Linked DNA regions of Homo sapiens: region 2 is linked to region 1. The links come from fine-mapping of genetic effects on gene expression. A gene starts in region 1. The other region holds a variant in brackets. All regions are shown on one strand. Distances are from middle to middle.

What was found. PIP is the estimated chance that this variant, and not a neighbour inherited with it, causes the effect.
Region 2: its variant is fine-mapped to the expression of TLR8 in breast (GTEx, PIP 0.96).

The regions. Positions count from the first base shown.
Region 1 is chrX:12,903,004-12,911,819 of GRCh38, forward strand. It overlaps TLR8 (toll like receptor 8), which reads left to right and starts at 3,617. Exons shown (of 2, transcript NM_138636.5): 1 at 3,617-3,706. The coding sequence starts at 3,704. TLR8-AS1 (TLR8 antisense RNA 1) reads right to left here. Exons shown (of 5, transcript NR_030727.1): 3 at 5,213-5,330; 4 at 3,187-3,248; 5 at 1-982.
Region 2 is chrX:12,945,864-12,954,679 of GRCh38, forward strand. No RefSeq gene overlaps it. Among named protein-coding and RNA genes, the nearest start is that of TLR8-AS1, 7.0 kb to the left of the region's middle. RefSeq lists cis regulatory regions at 902-1,345, 4,307-4,719, 4,989-5,418 and enhancers at 1,220-1,349, 4,347-4,641, 5,047-5,341, 5,272-5,501. The variant G/A (reference allele first, on the strand shown) is at 5,242.

The sequences.
Region 1 (8,816 bases):
TGTGTAAGACCAGGCTGGATGGATACAACAGCCCTTGGGCTCAAAACTTGTACAGTCTGGTGAATGTAACACGGAGCCACCAAAATGTCATCCAGCAGAGAAAGTGGCAAGTACGACAGAGCTTTCCGTTCAGATCCAAGCTTTGCTGCTGAATTTGGGTAAATGACTGAGCCTTTATGAGCCTGTTTCCTCCTCTGAAAATGGGGATTATAGTAACAAGCAGAGAGAACAGGAGTGGTGGGTGGGTAGCGCCTTAAGTAGGTGTTGGTGCAGAGGACTCCATCCCATCTGGGCCACAGACCATCAGGAGGCACGTGGGGACTTGGGGACAAAGAAAACAAGCAGCCCATATCTGCCGGCAGGACCTGGCAAAGTGGGCGTGACACCAACAAGTTGCATCCCAGAGGTGACCACAAAGCGCCCAGGATTTGCAAAGCTAAGGTCAAGTGGAGGCAGGAGGAGACAGTTTCAGGAAACACCTGTGGCCTATCTCACCCGTGTCTTCCCTGGCCAGGGAAGGGCAGCCGCTTAAAGGGGCCAAGGGAAGCTGCAGCGTGGCTCCTAAACATGGACGCACAGTAGCTGTCCTCTCAGGAGCTCTGCACCCCCACTTAAAACCAGGATCACAAGAGATTTGTGTAAAGGAAGCCTCTTGTGCATTTCTTCATCTGAATCGTTGACTTAAAAGTTTCTTCCACGTAAGTCCTTTCACTTTAGCTTTGTATATATTTAGCATTGATTTCACAACAAACAACTGATTCCAGGCACTTGGTGTTTTCCCAGACCTTGAGCTTTTTCCAGGGTTGCACGTTATTTCCATATGTGGTACTTCGCGGCAGCCCCAGTATGGGGAAGCCATTTGCTGCCTTATGAATTGTCTGGTCATCCACTCGAGAGGAAAGGGCTGTGTCCAGGGCTGGGGAAGGCCCCAAGAGTGGTTCTTCAGGCCTACTGTTGGCAACAGCCCAGGAATGTGTGAAGTCTGTAACAACAAGCGTAGTAATAATAATTCCAGCTCTGCTAGTTGAACGCTCACTTTGTGCCAGCTACTTTTCTAAGAGTTCCACGATATGAACAATTTAATCCTCAAAGCCAACATCTGAGAAAGATACTACTATTCTTATCCCAATTTGACAGATGAGAAAACTAAGGCTCAGAGAGGCTTGTCTGCTGGTGATTTGTGTGTCTGGGAAGTGCACGTTGTCTGGCAGGCTTGCCTGGCAGAAGCGGTTCATGACAGGTCTTCTCCATTTTGGAATCAAGATCTGTGTCAGCATGGATGGCAAGGGGAAGAGTAAGGAAAGATTGGTCTAGGAGATGCCCAGGAGCTTTTGGCCTCACAGTGCAGGGTGGGGAGAGCAGACCTGGCCACCAAGGACCAGTTTCTGGGCTTGGGCAGAAGCCAATCATCTGGCTACTTTACAAGCAGATGGAGCTTCTTCCTCTCAGTAACCTTCCTGCCCTGGTGTCAATTCCATTTTCATTTTCATCTTTTATGGTACTGGTTGTGTGGAGAAAACTGAAGGCTCATTTGGTATAAGTAAGTAACTCATTTTTATGAGTTTGCTTGACATAGATACTAGACTGTATGTGTGTATATATACATATAAACATGCATATGTACATAAAAAATATATATATATCATATATACATGATGATACACACACACACACACACACACACACACACACATATATATATATACGTATACAAGCATGCTTTACAAGGCCAATTGACTGGTCTACAATTGGCTGACACTTGGTGGCCTAGAAGCCAGGGTATGTGAGTCTCGCTTTTCTAGAAAGCTGACAAACTCTCCAGTTCCAAGGATCCTTGCTCAGTCAACGGCTGGAAGTCATTTTTACTTCGCTGTTTTTTGTTTGTTTGTTTGTTTGTTTTTTTAGACAAAGTCTCATTCTGTCACCCAGGCTAGAGTGCAGTGGCACTATCATGGCTCACTGCAATCTCCACCTCCTGGGCTCAAGCGATCCTCCCACCTCAGCCACCCGAGTAACTGGGACTACAGGTGCACACCACCATGCCTGGCTAATTTTTGTATTTTTTTAGAGACAAGGTTTTGCCATGTTGCCCGGGTTGGTCTCAAACCCCTGAGCACAAGTGATCCTCCTGCCTCGGCCTCTACAAAGTGCTGGAATTACAGGTGTGAGCCACTGCACTCGATCCATTCTTACTTACTTTCTTTACTTTATTTCCAAGCAAATGTTTGGAGGGAAACCAAGAGACTTGGATGCGGCCAGCCGAGGCCTTTGGGTTTACAATCACAAATGTTTTTGGTTTGCCCATGAAGGCCCAGGCTGCACTCTCTGATGTCACAGGAATCACCTCTCAAACCATGCACCAGGTCTTGAATTCCCTTAGGGTGTGATCTTTAGAGGTCCATCTAGGTATACCCACCCAAGCCATTCTTTGACTGCTGACAGGCCTTCCTTCATAACAAGGTGTTCCACAGTCCATTTATATATGGATGTCATCTCTGCCCACCCTGCTGCCAATTTGGTTTTCTCCCACTCCTGGGGTGTAAGGCAAGATGAAACATATCACATCCCGTTCTAAACTTTATTCTTGTGGCCAGGGGTCAGCAAACTTTTTCTGTAAAGGGCCAGATGGCAAATATCTTAGGTTTTACAGGCCAAGAAGCAAATTTGGCATATTATGTAGCTACTTATATAGTAAAATAAAAATTTCCACAATTATGTAATTGATGAAACTCAAAATGTAATAATAATAATCGAAGGCAGTTTTTTTGTAGTATAGGTTTAATAATGAGAAGAATGGAATCATTTTTGGAGGTGCTAACATTCTGCTTGGTTGGAATTTAAAGTTAGTGTTCTGTATCAGCAAATCCATTGCCAATGTTCATCTAAAAATGTTTTCACTTCTGGGCCGGATTTCGTTCAAAGGCTGCAGTTTGCTGACCTCTGCTCTTGGTTACACCTTTTGAGGCCCTTGCTCTCCGAGCATAAAATGGAATCCATTTATCAGACTAAATCGGGAAGATTAAATTTTCCAGCCTCACGAATGCTCAGCCATTGACTCACTCGTTCATACAATGAACACTCATTGAGCTTATACTACATGCCAGGTGCTGGAGGAGGCATGGGGCGCCCAGGAGAAAGATGCTCGCTTTGCGGCCACAGCCCAGTGGGAGGGAGACCCATACCTACCGGTGCTGTCTCAGAAACTTGTGGAACAAAGATGAAGCAATGTTCATGTTATTCGCCTACATCTGTGAATTACACAAGGAAGACGAGTTTGAGAAATCCGAAGTTCAGTACAAATTTATGGTAACTTTTTTAAAAAAGAATACACTGAAGTTTTCTTAGTGAATGGAATAATGTTCCCTTTTTCTCCCCTGTACACACAAATACACAAAAACTAACAAAAATACGTCGTGTGTGTCTGATTTGGGTTGTATTTAAATCATTTCATAAATGACTTTTTCCCATAACTTCAGTTTCAAAGTTTTAAAGCACAGTCAATTAATGATTTGGCAACAGCTAAGAAATCACAAGTTCCCTTCTTTTCATGTAAACTTCTGTAAAACACACGCTACGTTCTGCTGATGGTAAATAGAGCCATTTCAGGAAGTTAGCCAGTTTCTCTTCTCGGCCACCTCCTGCATAGAGGGTACCATTCTGCGCTGCTGCAAGTTACGGAATGAAAAATTAGAACAACAGAAACATGGTAAGCCACTTCTATTTCTTTAGCAAAGCTTTCCAACAGAATATGGGGTTTCTGACCCAGAAATCTGGGTTGGTGGCAAATGGTGTGAGCCTAGAAAGTAATAAATGGGCAAATAAGGATAAAAATTAAAGATCGAAACAACTGTAAATGCAGGTAAAGCGGCTTGCTATGATCTTTAATTTGTGCACACGTTAGTATAAAGGAATTAGAGAGTAAATTTTGAAAATCAAATGCAGTGATGATCTTACTAATTTGGACAGGAAAATAAGAAAATTTCAAGTTAGAAATTGAACTGGAAATATTACTTACTGGCCCTACCAGAGACAATATCCTCTTCCAGAACAACAGGGTTGGAAGAGAAGGTGAGGGAAATATTCTTCCTTTGCTATTTCTGTAGAAAAGGACAAACTCTCTTCCTTCACATACATAGGTCAATTGCTAGATCCTAGTGAAGCCTGAGCTTAACCTACTGTTGGAGGCTTAAAGTTCGACATTAATTGCTACTTTTCTTGGTCAGAGTTTTAAATAATTAGGTTGGTACAAAAAACTGTGATTACTTTTCCACCAACCTAATAACATGCTACAATTTCTGTAATTATTATTTTACACTGTCAAGACATAGCAGGTGGTCCGTTTTTGTTATTGTCAAGAACTGTCAGACTAAAAATGAACTTTACACTTCTTTTTAAATGATACATTTTCTAGAAAATTCAATGAGGTTTAAGAGCAATTGAAAAGTCTGATTTCAAGAGAGTCTCATCCAAAATGTACTATATATTTTTCCCCAAAGTCCTTGGAGTTAATTTTGACAACAATTTAAAGTACACTTAAGTCTTTTGAAGTTAATGGGTCTGCCACCCAGGTTGGAGTGCAGTGGCGTGATCTCAGCTCACTGCAACCTCCGCCTCCCGGGTTCAAGCGATTCTCCTGCCTCAACCTCCCAAGTAGCTGGGACTACAGGTGTGTGCCACCACGCCTGGCTAATTTTTGTATTTTTAGTAGAGACGGGGTTTCTCCATGTTGGCCAGGCTGGTCTCGAACTCCTGACCTCAGGTGATCCGCCTGTCTCAGCCTCCCAAAGTGCTGGGATTACAGGCATGAGCCACCGCGCCCGGCCTGAAGTTAATTTTTATACCCACCTAATGTTCATTATGGATCTTGAAGGTAAATTAATTCTGCACTAAAATTTTACAATGCTTTACAAAATGACTGTAGGTGGCCCATATGGAATTCGGTCAACTGGGCCAATGACACATATGGGATTGCAGTTGAAATTATCCAATTCCTACTTGATATTTGTAAGCTGCTGTGATAGCCAGTATAATTGTACTGTAAGAATGTGGTAAATAGCCGGGGCCCGGTGGCTCACGCCTATAATCCCAGCACTTTGGGAAGCCGACGTGGGCGGATCACTTGAGGTCAGTAGGTAGAGACCAGCCCGGTCAACACGGCAAAACCTCGTCTCTACTAAAAATACAAAAATTAGCCAGGTGTGGTGGTACGCACCTGTAGTCCCAGCTACTCAGGAGGCTGAGGCAGGAGAATCGCTTGAGCCCATGAGGTGGATGTTGCAGTGAGCAAAGATCGCACCATTGTACTCCAGCCTGGGCAACGGAGTAAGACTCTGTTTCAAAACAACAACAACAACAACAACAACAGATTGGTAAATAGAGTAATAATAAAATCAAATTAAACTTGCAAAAAATGGCCACTTTGCTCCCACTGGTGGCCAATGGAGGTCAAGGACCTGGCTGACCTCCTGCCTAAAGGCAGAGGTTGTTAGCCTTCGCAATGGACTCAAATCAGAGGGGGAGCTTTCAAAACTCCTGCTGCCCAGACTGAACCCCAGATCAATGAAACCAAAATCTCTGGATACAGGGCTTGGCATTTGTAGCTTTTAGAGTTCCTAAGTATCTCTACTGTGCAGCCAAAGTTAAGAATCAGTGCCTTAGAACATCAACAGTTTTTTGGTCCTTTTGTTAAAAAGCACAGTCCGTTTTTTTAGGTGGCTAGAAATGCTCCAGGAAGAGCTGAAATGTATTTACCAGCCACCTTGGTTTGATTTTAGAAAGCAAAATAGAAGTTCTAAGTATGCTTTCTCTGAAAAGCTGAGACTGCAGATAAGAGTGAGGGCAGTTGATGGAGTTCATTCTCCTCTTTCAATCACTGCTTCTCATCCTTTCATTATAATAATCTAAGAATCTCAGAGATTATGAAAGAGAAAGCAGTCTTATGGAAGACCCCAGACTCACAGAATATTAGGGTGTGTTTCACAGGGAAGGATGTCATTACCCACAGTTAGTCTTTGAAACGCAGTTGGACATTATTTGTAAGTGCATCATAGTGTCGCCTCCAGGTTCCATTGAGGGGAACGTCATTCCAATGCAACATCTCTGAGTTCATCTGGGTTATTAAATGGGGTTGAGGGATTTGTTATTTTTAAATTAGTAGCCCCAATTTAGGACTACTCAAGACCATAGGACAAGCCTGTCCAACCCTCGGCCTGCGGGCTGCATATGGCCGAGGACAGCTTTGAATGCAGCCCAAGACAAATTCATAAACTTTCTGAAAATATTATGCATTTGTTTTTTAGCCCATCAGCTACTGTTAGTGTTAGTGTATTTTATGTGTGGCCCAAGACAATTCTTCTTCTTCCAGTGTGGCCCAGAGAAGCTGAAAGATTGGACACCCCTGCTATAAGACACAGTAATATAAATACATAACCTGTGGTTCTGGATTGGCATTAGCAGATACAGGCTGTGTTGATTTTGCAGAAAGTTACAAAGAGCTGCTAGTTGGTGTGTATGTCTAAAATCAGTAGATTTCCTGTGGTTCTAAGGAATGACAAAGAATCTGGAAGTTCTCTGTGGTAGCCTGCTCAGTGCAGAAAGGGAACGTGGAAAATCCGCCACCAGCATTTGAGTCTTGGAGGTTCCACATAGGGCTATCAGGTCTCTGCTGATCACTGAAACCAGATCATGGCCAACTAGCCCCTTGGCTTCAGCCCTCCCAATTCATTAACTACTCAGGTAAATCTAGGGTCACTTTCAACTCTACCACCTACCATCTGAGTGACCTTGAAAACATTCATCTCTCTGAGCCTCAGGTCCCATGTCTGTAAAGCAGGGGCCTCATGGACTTCTTTGGGTTTTTTTGTTTTTGTTTTTGTTTCTGAGGATTAAACAAATGCTCCCTACCCTATTTCCCAGCATCCAGTAACACAGTTTTTCATATTTTTGTGTATGTTAAGTCAGGACCCATCTCTTTAATGATAAGTGCACTTAATGTGGTCATGTTTTCTTTTGTCTTCCAAAGCTGTTAGTGAATCCATTGAATTTGGGATGGGTAAAATAAAGTATCTATTATTAATTGTAAATTTCATCTAAAGTGACAAATCCTACCTGCATAACCATTTCTTAATTTCCTTTCATCATGTATCAGTGGTCAACATTGTTAACTGCGAATGAATCAGAATCCATCAAAAATTAGAACTATTTCCAGTCTGGCAAAAATTCAGCTCTGGTTGAATCCAAACATTGTGCTGAAGCAGCTAAGTAATTCAACTGAGGAGATTAATTACATGTTATAATCAATAGGTTCTCTTGACACTTCAGTGTTAGGGAACATCAGCAAGACCCATCCCAGGAGACCTTGAAGGAAGCCTTTGAAAGGGAGAATGAAGGAGTCATCTTTGCAAAATAGCTCCTGCAGCCTGGGAAAGGAGACTAAAAAGGTAAAAAGCTGTTAATTCCAGGAAGACAGCTTTACGCCCCTCCCAGACCACCTGCACTGCACACTACGTGGAATTTATTTTAGTCTCACATGGCAGCGTCCCTACCTTTGTGCCCACACATCTGGTCTCCGCCCTGGCTGCAGCCCTCCCCTTCAGGCGAATTCTGGGTGTGTCCTATCTGCTCATTGCAACTCCCAGCGAATGAGTTTTCAGCGAAGGCAGACTTTCTGACCTGTTCTTCAAACTGCACTGGTCTTTTAAAAACGTGTTTGGTGGCCATCAGCATCCAATTTCAGAAGAAAGATTTGGGTGAGGACTGAGAGAGGCTGTTGTTGTTGTGCTGTCTGTTTCCTTCAGAATCTGCAGAAGAAAATTGGCAGGTCATGTACTGTGGACCTAACCAAAGGACAAATGATGTATGGAAAATAGAAAAACTGTTGTGAAATTGCTTCCTCATTAGCAATAACTGTATTTGGCAGGGAGAGGAGAAGTTGGGCACATTTTTTTTTCTTTTTTTTTTCATGATTCATACGTTTTCTTTAAAGAAGTGGGTTTTGCTTTTCACTGGGTGCTCTAAGACAACCCCAGTGAAAGATCTGGACCACGAAGACCCAGTCATCCTCATAAGGGTGTTCATTGCAGCAAGCTCAAGGGCATGCCAGGCAAAGGCCTTTTTTCTGGCAGCTTGAACTTGTCTCAGCAGAGGGTTTCACAGAACAACTGTCATTTACCTGTTCTCTGCTCTTACTTGATTCGTTTCCCAGGACTGCTGAAACAAAGTACCACAAACTTGGTGGATCAAAACAGCAGAAATATATCCTCTCACAGTTCTGGAAACCACAAGTCAGAAACCAATGTGTTGTTGGCAGGGTTGGTTCCTTCTTAAGGGGCTAGAGGGAAAATCTGTTTCATGCTCCTCTCCCAGCTTCTGGTGGTAGCTAGCAATTCTTGATGCTCTCTGGCTTGCCGCTGCATCTCTCTAGCCTTCACCTCTCCTCATGTGGGTGGCCTTCTTTCCTGTGTGTCTATTTCCAAATTCCCCTTTTCTTATAAGGGGACCAGTTATTGGATCAGGGCCCACCTTAATTCAGTAGATCCCATTTTAACTTGATGACATCAGCAAAGTCCAAATAAGGTTGTATTCACAGGTACCAGGGGTTAGAACTTCAAGTTATCTATTAGGGGACACAATTCAACCTAAAAACTCCCCTTTTTTGATTCTCTATTCTGCCACTTCTACTCAATCCAGGTTCTTCACTTCATCAGCTCCCAATCTAATACTTATCTTATTTCTAGTAAGCATCTCTTCCTTATCTTAACTGGTCCCTGGGGCCTGGCCCGAGCCCCATTATACCATCAGCTGTTGACATCAAGGGT
Region 2 (8,816 bases), 43 kb after region 1:
AAACTCGCCTTCCCTGTTGGAAGTGAGCTGAAATTCCAGAAAGGAGTTACCTGCACTCTTCATCATGGAAGCAGGAAAACTTGCCTTCCTTTTTGGGAGCAAGTGAAACTCCAGAAAAGGAGTTATACAGCAAAATAAACTTTAGATCTCAACCAAATTTGGAGAGATCAGGGATTCTCTTGGTCGGGGGTGGGGGTGTCTCCCAGGCCTCAGCCAATTGTCCTACTGGCTTGAGCCATAAAGATAGCTCAAGCTGGTACCAAGCACCAACAGTAGATTTGTCAAAGGTCAGGGGTACCTCCACTCAGAATCCCTTCATGGTTACCAATTTGTGAATCCAAAATATCTGAGACAGGCCTCAGTCAATTTAGAAAGTTTATTTTGCCAAGGTTAAGGATGCACCCATGACACAGCCTCAAGAGGTCCTGGCTACATGGGCCCAAGGTGGTCGGAGCACAGCTTGGTTCTACACATTTTAGGGAGACGTGAGACATCAATCAACATGTGTAAGATGTACATTGGTTCCGTCCAGACAGGCAGGACAACTCGAATCAGGGGAGGGGGCTTCCAGATCACAGGTAGATAAGAGACATTTGTTGCATTCTATTGGGTCTCTGATTAGCCTTTCACTGAATATACAATTCACATGGGAGAGGAGGGTGGAGGAATAGTCACTTATGCCTGGTCTGCCTTGGTGAAACGACAGGGCAGAGGAAGCAATCAGATATGCATTTGTCTCACATGAGCCTCAGAGGGATGACTTTGAGCTCTGTCTGTCCTTTGTCCACGAGGAATTTCCTTGTGGGCAAATTGTGAGGGAGGTATGTCTTTTTTTTTTTTTTATCTTTGTAGCTGTCTTATTTAGGAATAAAATGGGAGGCAGGTTTGCTTGACGCAGTTCCCAGCTTGACTTCCCTTTAGCTTAGTGATTTTGGGGTCCCAAGATTTATTTTCCTTTCACAACTCCCATCTGATATATTTAAGGGGGAATTCTTTTGTGCCTACAGCATTGTTAGTGGAATGTGGAGCGACAGCAAGGGATGGGCCTAGCTGGAATTTACCACCAGGGGGCTTGGACTCTTTCTCATGCGTCAACACCAATCACTGCCAATAGGGGGCAGCAACAATTTGCCTACAGCCTTTAGGCTTTGGTTTTAGACTCAAGGAGCTCAGGGTGTGGAATCTCCATTGTTTTTCCTCTGAAACTTGGCTTCTTATCTGCCTGCGGACTCAAATCCTCCTCCTGCCAATACTACAACAGCCACAGAACAAATGCATTGAAACTGAGAGAACTGGTAAGAGGCTAGATCTAGTGTAAATCAGAGAATGGGCCTCATAAAAGGAGCAGTTTGGAGGAACCTAATCCTTCACAGTTTGTCTAGCAATTTCTAGGTTCAATCAATTGAGGGCTTAACTGGTAAACTCAAGTGGAAATTTTTTATTGGCTCCTGGTGATGTCACTCCTGGTGAGTGTGGGAGAACTGGTTTTCTAGGTGTGGGGATTCTTTATTCTCTGAAACACCCACTAGGAAACGCCCTGAGGCCTTTTCACCTTCTGTGGTGTCAGGACCTCTCATGTAACTGGATACAGTGCTTTTCCCAAACAGACTATACACAACAGAAACTCAAAAAATAGAAACGCTAAGTGGGAATAAGGGAAATAAACTACAAGAGTAGTGGTTCTCGACCTTGGCTGCACATGGGAATCACCTGGGAGCTTCAATCCGCAAGGACCAATGCCAGGGACCCCCCTACCCCCTGCCCCCGAGATTTGGATTAACTGGTCTGCATGCAACCAGGGCAGCTGGCGTTTTGAAAGGTCCCCAGGTGGTTCCCATGTACAGCCAAACTGAGAACCATTGTCAGATGTGCAGTCTTTGCTCCTGGGTCAATTAATTCCTCACGCCCACTAACTACTTTAGATGTCTTATGCTTTGAGCACATTTAAAATAAAACCCAAAACTTAATAAAACAAAGTTAGTACACAGAGAAATAGGAACCTGATTAAAATAGAACATGAAGTCAAGTCAGTTTGGTTTTGTTTTAAATCTCCAATTGCCACCATTAATTCTGCTCCCAAAGGTCAATAATGCTAGCCTGCTATTTGCTTTGTTCACTTCTGAATGAAGCACTTGTGTTTGCTGACCTTCAAACACTTCCAGGTTGTCTAAGAGGAAGCCATGTGGCACTTTGACTTTTGTGTGACCTGGCAATTTGTTTACATCAAATCCCTTTTAACCCTCTGCAGTTGACAGTGGAGAATTCAGTATTTTCATATGCTGCCTAACCTCTAGGGTGGAAGGCTTTAAACTTGATTTAGGTCAAGTTGGCAGTGACCCAGGTGAGCCCCCAGGAAACTGCACTTCCACAGCCAAAACGTGGCCATCCACCAACTTAGGCATGACAGTTACAGTTTTGAACCTGCTATTAAGTCCCACAATTCTCTTGGTTAGTTAGAGTAATCAAACCTGTCAAGGGTAGGCAGAACTGGAGGAGTGAAGAATGGTTTTGAGGGTACAGTGGAAAAATCAACTTTGGAGTATGACAAGCCAGCCTCAACACTCAGTCACTCTTACCAGCTGTGAGATCTTAGGTGGGTTTATCACTGGCTGTGAGCTTGACTTGCCTATCTATACTATAAAGGAATAAAAGCCCCTTCAGGTGGTTTTTCTTAAATAAATGGAATAGACCTGTCATGTGCTGGTAAATGTTTAACAACTGGTTCTCAAGGTGGTGGGGGCAGCCCTGATTTGGAGTATTTCCATGGTGTAAATACTGTCACCATGGCAGATCTCAAGACACCAGTGTGACAGCTCTGAATGTGGAATTGGGAAGAGGTATGCGCCATCTGGGATAAACCATCTCCTAGTACCTACCTAGAATGCAGCAGACACTCAGGATGTTATCCCCTGCCCTTCCCCCTCATAGGAACATCTATGCTGACAGAGACCTTTGCCATTATTAAAGCATTTTTACAAACACTATCTCATTACATTCTCAGGTGAGATGGGCAGGGCGGGTCTTATTTCTACTTTTTACAGACAAGAAGCCTCAGGCTCAGAGAGACTGGACAAAATTGCTCAGGGGCACACAGCAAGTAATCTACAAAATGAGCATAGCAGGCAGAGTAGCAGCCCCAAAACATGTCTGCATCCTAATCCCTGGAACCTATGAATATTTGGTTACATGGCAAAAGGGAATTTTGACTGCAGACGGATTTAATATTGCTAGTCAGGTGACCTCCAAGTAGGGAGATCATCCTAGATTATCCGGGTGGGCCTAGTGTAGTGACAAGGGCCCTTAAAAGTGAAGGAGGGCAGCTCAAGAGGAGAGTCAGGGGGAAATGTGACTATGCAGGACTGGTCAGAGAGATGTGACATTGCCAGCTTTGAAGATGGAGGAAGCAAGGAATCTAGAAGGCCTCTAGAAGCTGGAAAGGCAGGGAAGCAGCTTCTCCCCCAGAACCTCCATGAAAAGATGTAGCCTACCAGGTACGTTGATTTTGGCCCAGTGAGACTTCTGACCTCCAGAACTTTAAGATGATCAATTTGTGTTGTTTAAGCTGCTGGATCTGTGGTCCTTTGCTACTACAGGGATAGGAAATGAATTCAACGGGACTGGCAATCAGATCTCCTTATCCCTCAAATCTCAGCTCAAATTTCACCTCTTGAGGGAGCCATGTTTTTCCTGCCTTTTCTAGGCCTCTGGTTTTACCCGAGTTCTGATAATATCTGGCTTTAGGCACTCACCAGATGGTTGTGAATCTTTGCATACTTGCTGGTTTTCTCCCTAATCCCCAAGTGGCAAGAATATTCTTTTCACTTTGCATCACTTTCCACTAGCACAGCTCCTTCCCCAAGACCACAGCATAATAACTGCATTCAGAATGTGTGAGTGTGAAAATAGAGGAATGAATGAATGGGAGCTGACATTAACAATAGTACTGCACCCCAGCACCACCAGGAATCACGATGCTGAGCTGTCACTGTTGCAGAACAATTAAAAGCATCTCCTGCTAGTATCCTGAGCTACCTACCCCCTTCCTGCAGGAAAGACTTCCCGTCTTCCCACTGGCTCACAGAAGTGGCCTTTTCCTCCGGAAACCAGCGTGCATCTGTTAGCATCTTTTGTCTTTTGTGGGAAAGGGAGGATTCTGGCTCCAGACTGAAGAGGGACAGGCATGGTGTGTGGGTTCACAGAGCCCCAGACTCCAGACTCTGATGCCAGCATCTTTGTCTCAGCAAAGGTCATAATTGGATTTGGATGTTTAAGGCAGTCACTGATTTACTGTTCTCATTTTTCAAGTGTGAGAAATACTAACTCTGTGCTTTGCTTACTTCTAAAGGAACAAAGGCAGTATGAGCAGCCTTTAAATACTGCCACATAATACACTGAGAGCAGACATGACCACGTGCTACAAAGAGTCAGGGCTACGTAGGAAAGTTCACATCGGCGTGGGAAGTGAAAGTAAGCCACGTCACCGTTTCTGTCACGTGACAGCTGTGGGGTGTGGAGCAACTCACTGAGCCTCTTTCCTGGTGTGTAAGATGGGGATAATGATAGCTCCCATTCACTGACCGCTTCCAAAGTGCCTGACCCTGTTCTAAGCCTTCACTGTCATCCTGATTTTATAGTTAGACAGTTTGTCAGTGTCAGAAGCAGAATTGGCTACATAGTTTGCAAGTCCAGTGCCCTGGTTCAAAAATGATTAAGAATTTCAAGATGGTGGTAGCAGAGCAAAAAACCAAGCCCGGAGCCCTCCTTAGTGTGGCTCTTATGTGACTGCACAGGCTGCACACCCTGGGCAGAATTAGTATACAAATCCTGCAGCCTGACTCCAGAACCTTCCATCTTAACATCTATGCCACAAGAGCTGTCTCCTAAGGTGGCCGTGAGGTTGGAAATGAGACTAAGGCATTCCTGGCAGAGGGCACAGTGTGAATGATCTGGAAATACAGGCGTGGACAGGAAGATGAGGAAGGAATGATAAACTCTCATGGCTAAAGCTTTGGTGAGCTGAAGGAAACAGAAGTGTGCTGGTAGGCAGTACTGGCTGCAAACTGTGCCCTCCCTGAAGGCCAACTATAAAGTGCAAGGCCCTTGTACTTTATAGGCGACTGGTGTTGAGGATCGCTGGAAGGTTTAGAAGCAGGGGGTAGCATGGACGCAGGCAGAGAACTGCCCCTAGGGGGAAGTGTGGAGCAGAGCAGACTGGGGCCTGGGCACCCGCTAGAGGAGGCC[G/A]TTACAACCACACTCTAGGGATCTCATAGTGAGAGGCTCAGGGAGTAGAGGAAGGAAACAGGGAAAACTGAAGGTCTTCAAGGTAAGTAGAAATTATAGCTTTGGAATACGATCTGGAAACAGGAAACTGGGGGAAAGGAAAAGCTTCTGATGCCTGCTGGCCTGGCCTTCTGTTTGAGCGCCATCAGGCCCGTATGGAGTATCATGATGTACACAGACTGCCTTTGCACCCATAGAAAACAGGGTACATCTCTTCAGGAAGTAGAAACTCTTTGAGCAAAAGAAATCGATTTAACTTCCTAAAAACAACAGCTGTTACTGGCTATAAACTCAGTCATTTCTCAATTTGGGTTTTTCCCCCAAAATATTCCCTTCCAATTTTCAGAGGCATAATCAGTTCTGTGATTATGTTGCTTGCACATAATTAGATCACACAGTAATAATAATAACTGTAAACTCTGGAGGAAACAGAGTGCAATTAAAACCAGAAAGAAAAAAATCTCCCAAACCTCTCCCAGATTCTTCTCTCAAACTTGGGAGTGGGGCACCTCAAGCCCAGTGAAGGAATCAACATATTTTACCCCAAAATATATTTCTTTGACATATTTTGAGATGGCTGTTCACAGGGCCCGCAAACAGAAGCAGCCCTACAAAACTGTCTCATGTGGCGAAGATTTGCATCTGCAGAGAAAAACTACGTTGATACAGCCAGGCTTTCTCTGAGGCTCTCTCTTGTCCATATCTAGGAAAAACTGAGAGTCTGATACCTTTAAAGGTCTGAAAGAAACATTTACTATCTATTCTGTCTGAGAGCGGCTACCTCTGAGATTTCTCCTATGTAACAAGAACGCCTTTGCCAGCCAGGCCTCCTCTTCTCCCCATGCCATAATCTCTTTGCCAAGATCCAAGCCTCCAGTCTTTCTGTAACCTCAAGGCTTCTGTACCCCACTGCGGGGATTGGTAATCACTCTATGGTTCTCCTCCATGTGCACAATAAATTTGTATGCTTTTTCTCCAATTAATCTGCCTTTTAATTTATTATTATTATAAATTTTTTTTGAGACGGAGTCTTGCTCTGTTGCCCAGGCTGGAGTGCAGTGGTGTGATCTCAGCTCACTGCAACCTCCGCCTCCCAGGTTCAAGCAATTCTCCTGCCTCAGCCTCCCGAGTAGCTGGGATTACAGGTGCACGCCACCAAGCCTGGCTAATTTTTGTATTTTTAGTAGAGACAGGGTTTCACCATGTTGGCCAGGCTGGTCTCAAACTCCTGACCTTGTGATCCGCCTGCCTTGGCCTCCCAAAGTGCTGGGATTACAGGCGTGAGCCACCATGCCCGGCCTATTATATATATTTTAATGCTCTCTCTCAGCAGAGTCAAGAGGATTAGTTATCGGTGTGTTGGACATACTGAGTATAGGGGGTCTGTGGGATATGTAAGAAGAAATGACTACTGGGCTGTTGCATATGTGGTTCTTCATCTCATTTTGTTTTAGAGCCAGAGTCTCACTCTGTCACTTAGACTGGAGTTCAGTGGCGAGGCTTTTTTTTTTTTAGACAGGGTCTTAACTCTGTTGTTTAGGCTGGAGTGCAGTGGCACAATCATAGCTCACTGTAACCTTGAACTCCTGGGCTCAAGCAACCCTCCCACTTCAGCCTCCTGAGTAGCTGAGATGACAGGCACGTACCACCACTCCTGAATTTTTTAAAAAATGTTTTAGGCATGTACCACCACAACTAAAAATTAGGCGTGTGCCACCACACCTAGTATTTAAAAAAATGTTTTCGTAGAGACGGTGATCTCGTTATGTTGCCCAGGCTAGTCTCAAACTCCTGGACCCATGTGATCCTCTGGCCTCAAGCGATCCTCCAGCCTCAGCCTCAGCCTCCCAAAGTGCTCAGATTATACCCAGTGTGCCCAGTCTATTAATCTGCCTTTTTTGAGTTGATTTTTCAGTAAACCTTCAGAGGGCGAAGGGGAGGTTTTCCCTTGGCCCCTACCCTGGATTCAAATCCTAGCTCCCACTTCCCAACAATGTGACTTTGGGCAAGTCAGGTAACCTGGTTCTCTTCTATAATGTGAGGGAACCATTCTAGCACTTAACCTCAATCATACTGCATTACCTTGTTCTGAAGTTTAAATGAGAAATTCTTAGACTAGCCTTCAGCATGTAGTAAAGCAGGCCATAAATGTCAGATATTATCATAATCTCCAGATTTTCTACAGTGATTCTTGAATGACATTTAAGATCAGAAACATCCATGTAATTCTCATATTACTATCATTGTTATGTATTCTTTCTCTCCGAATGAAGAATGAAGGTACCATCCACTGACACCACAGTCACGAGGTTGGGTCAAGCCTTATGACCACCCTAGAAGCCTAGACAGAAGGGTTCAAAGGCTCTTCCTCTCATATGGGCTAGTAATAAACAGGGTCTCTAACAGAATAGCGGAAACCTGAGTTGAGCATGTTCATGAGGGAGGGGAAGCTGACGCCCACATCAGCACTTGTTTTCGAAGAGGAGCTGTCTTGGCCCAGAGCCGTGGCTCACGCCTGTAATCCCAGTATTTTGGGAGGCCAAAGTGGGAGAATTGCTTGAGCCCAAGAGTTCAAGTCTAGCCTGGGCAACATAGTGAGACCGTGTCTCTAGAAAAAATTTAAAAAATTAGACAGGCATGGTGGTGTGTGCCTGTGATCCCAGCTACTCGGGAGGCTGAGGTGGGAAGATTGCTTGAGCCTAGGAGGTCGAGGCTACAGTGAGCTATGATCACACCACTGCACTCCAGCCTGAGCAACAGAGCAAGACCCCGTCTTAAAAAAAAAAAAAAAAAAAAAAAGAGGAGCTCTCCAGATTAATAACAATCTCCCCAGTTTTCATGATTCAGGCGTCAAATCCTGCTGCCCCATATGGTTCTCACCACTCAACGAGTATTATTTACAGAGGGCCGTCGTTGCTATGTCCTGGAGATACAGAGACAAATAGGACCCAGGCCGACCACTGAGGAGATCCAACCTGATGGGGAAAGAAGACAGAGAACACACAAGTGGGGCTAGACACGGTGGCTCACACCTGTAATCCCAGCACTTTGGGAGGCTGAGGCGAGTGGATCACCAGAGATCAGGAGTTCAAGACTGGCATGGCCAACATGGTGAAACCCTGTCGCTACTACAAATACAAAAATTAGCCGAGTATGGTCCTGTAGTCCCAGCTACTGGGGAGGCTGAGGCAAGAGAATCGCTTGAACCCAGGAGGGAGGGGTTGTAGTGAGCCGGGATTGCGCCACTGTACTCCAGCCTGGGCGACAGAGAGAGACTCCATCTCTAAATAAATAAAAATAAAAAGAGAACACACAGGTGGCAGCAATTGGGACAAATGTCACTGCAGAAGACCTTCCAAGGGGGTATTGGGGGGTGAGGACCACATTTTGCCTTAGGGTGACAAAGAAGGTTCACACAGTGGGCCACTTTCCGGGGTGTTGGTGATCTGAATCTTGATGGGGAGGGTGGTTACATGCGCGTACATGGTTGTCTAGCACTCATCGAGGTACATTCAAGATGAATTTTATGTCAATTA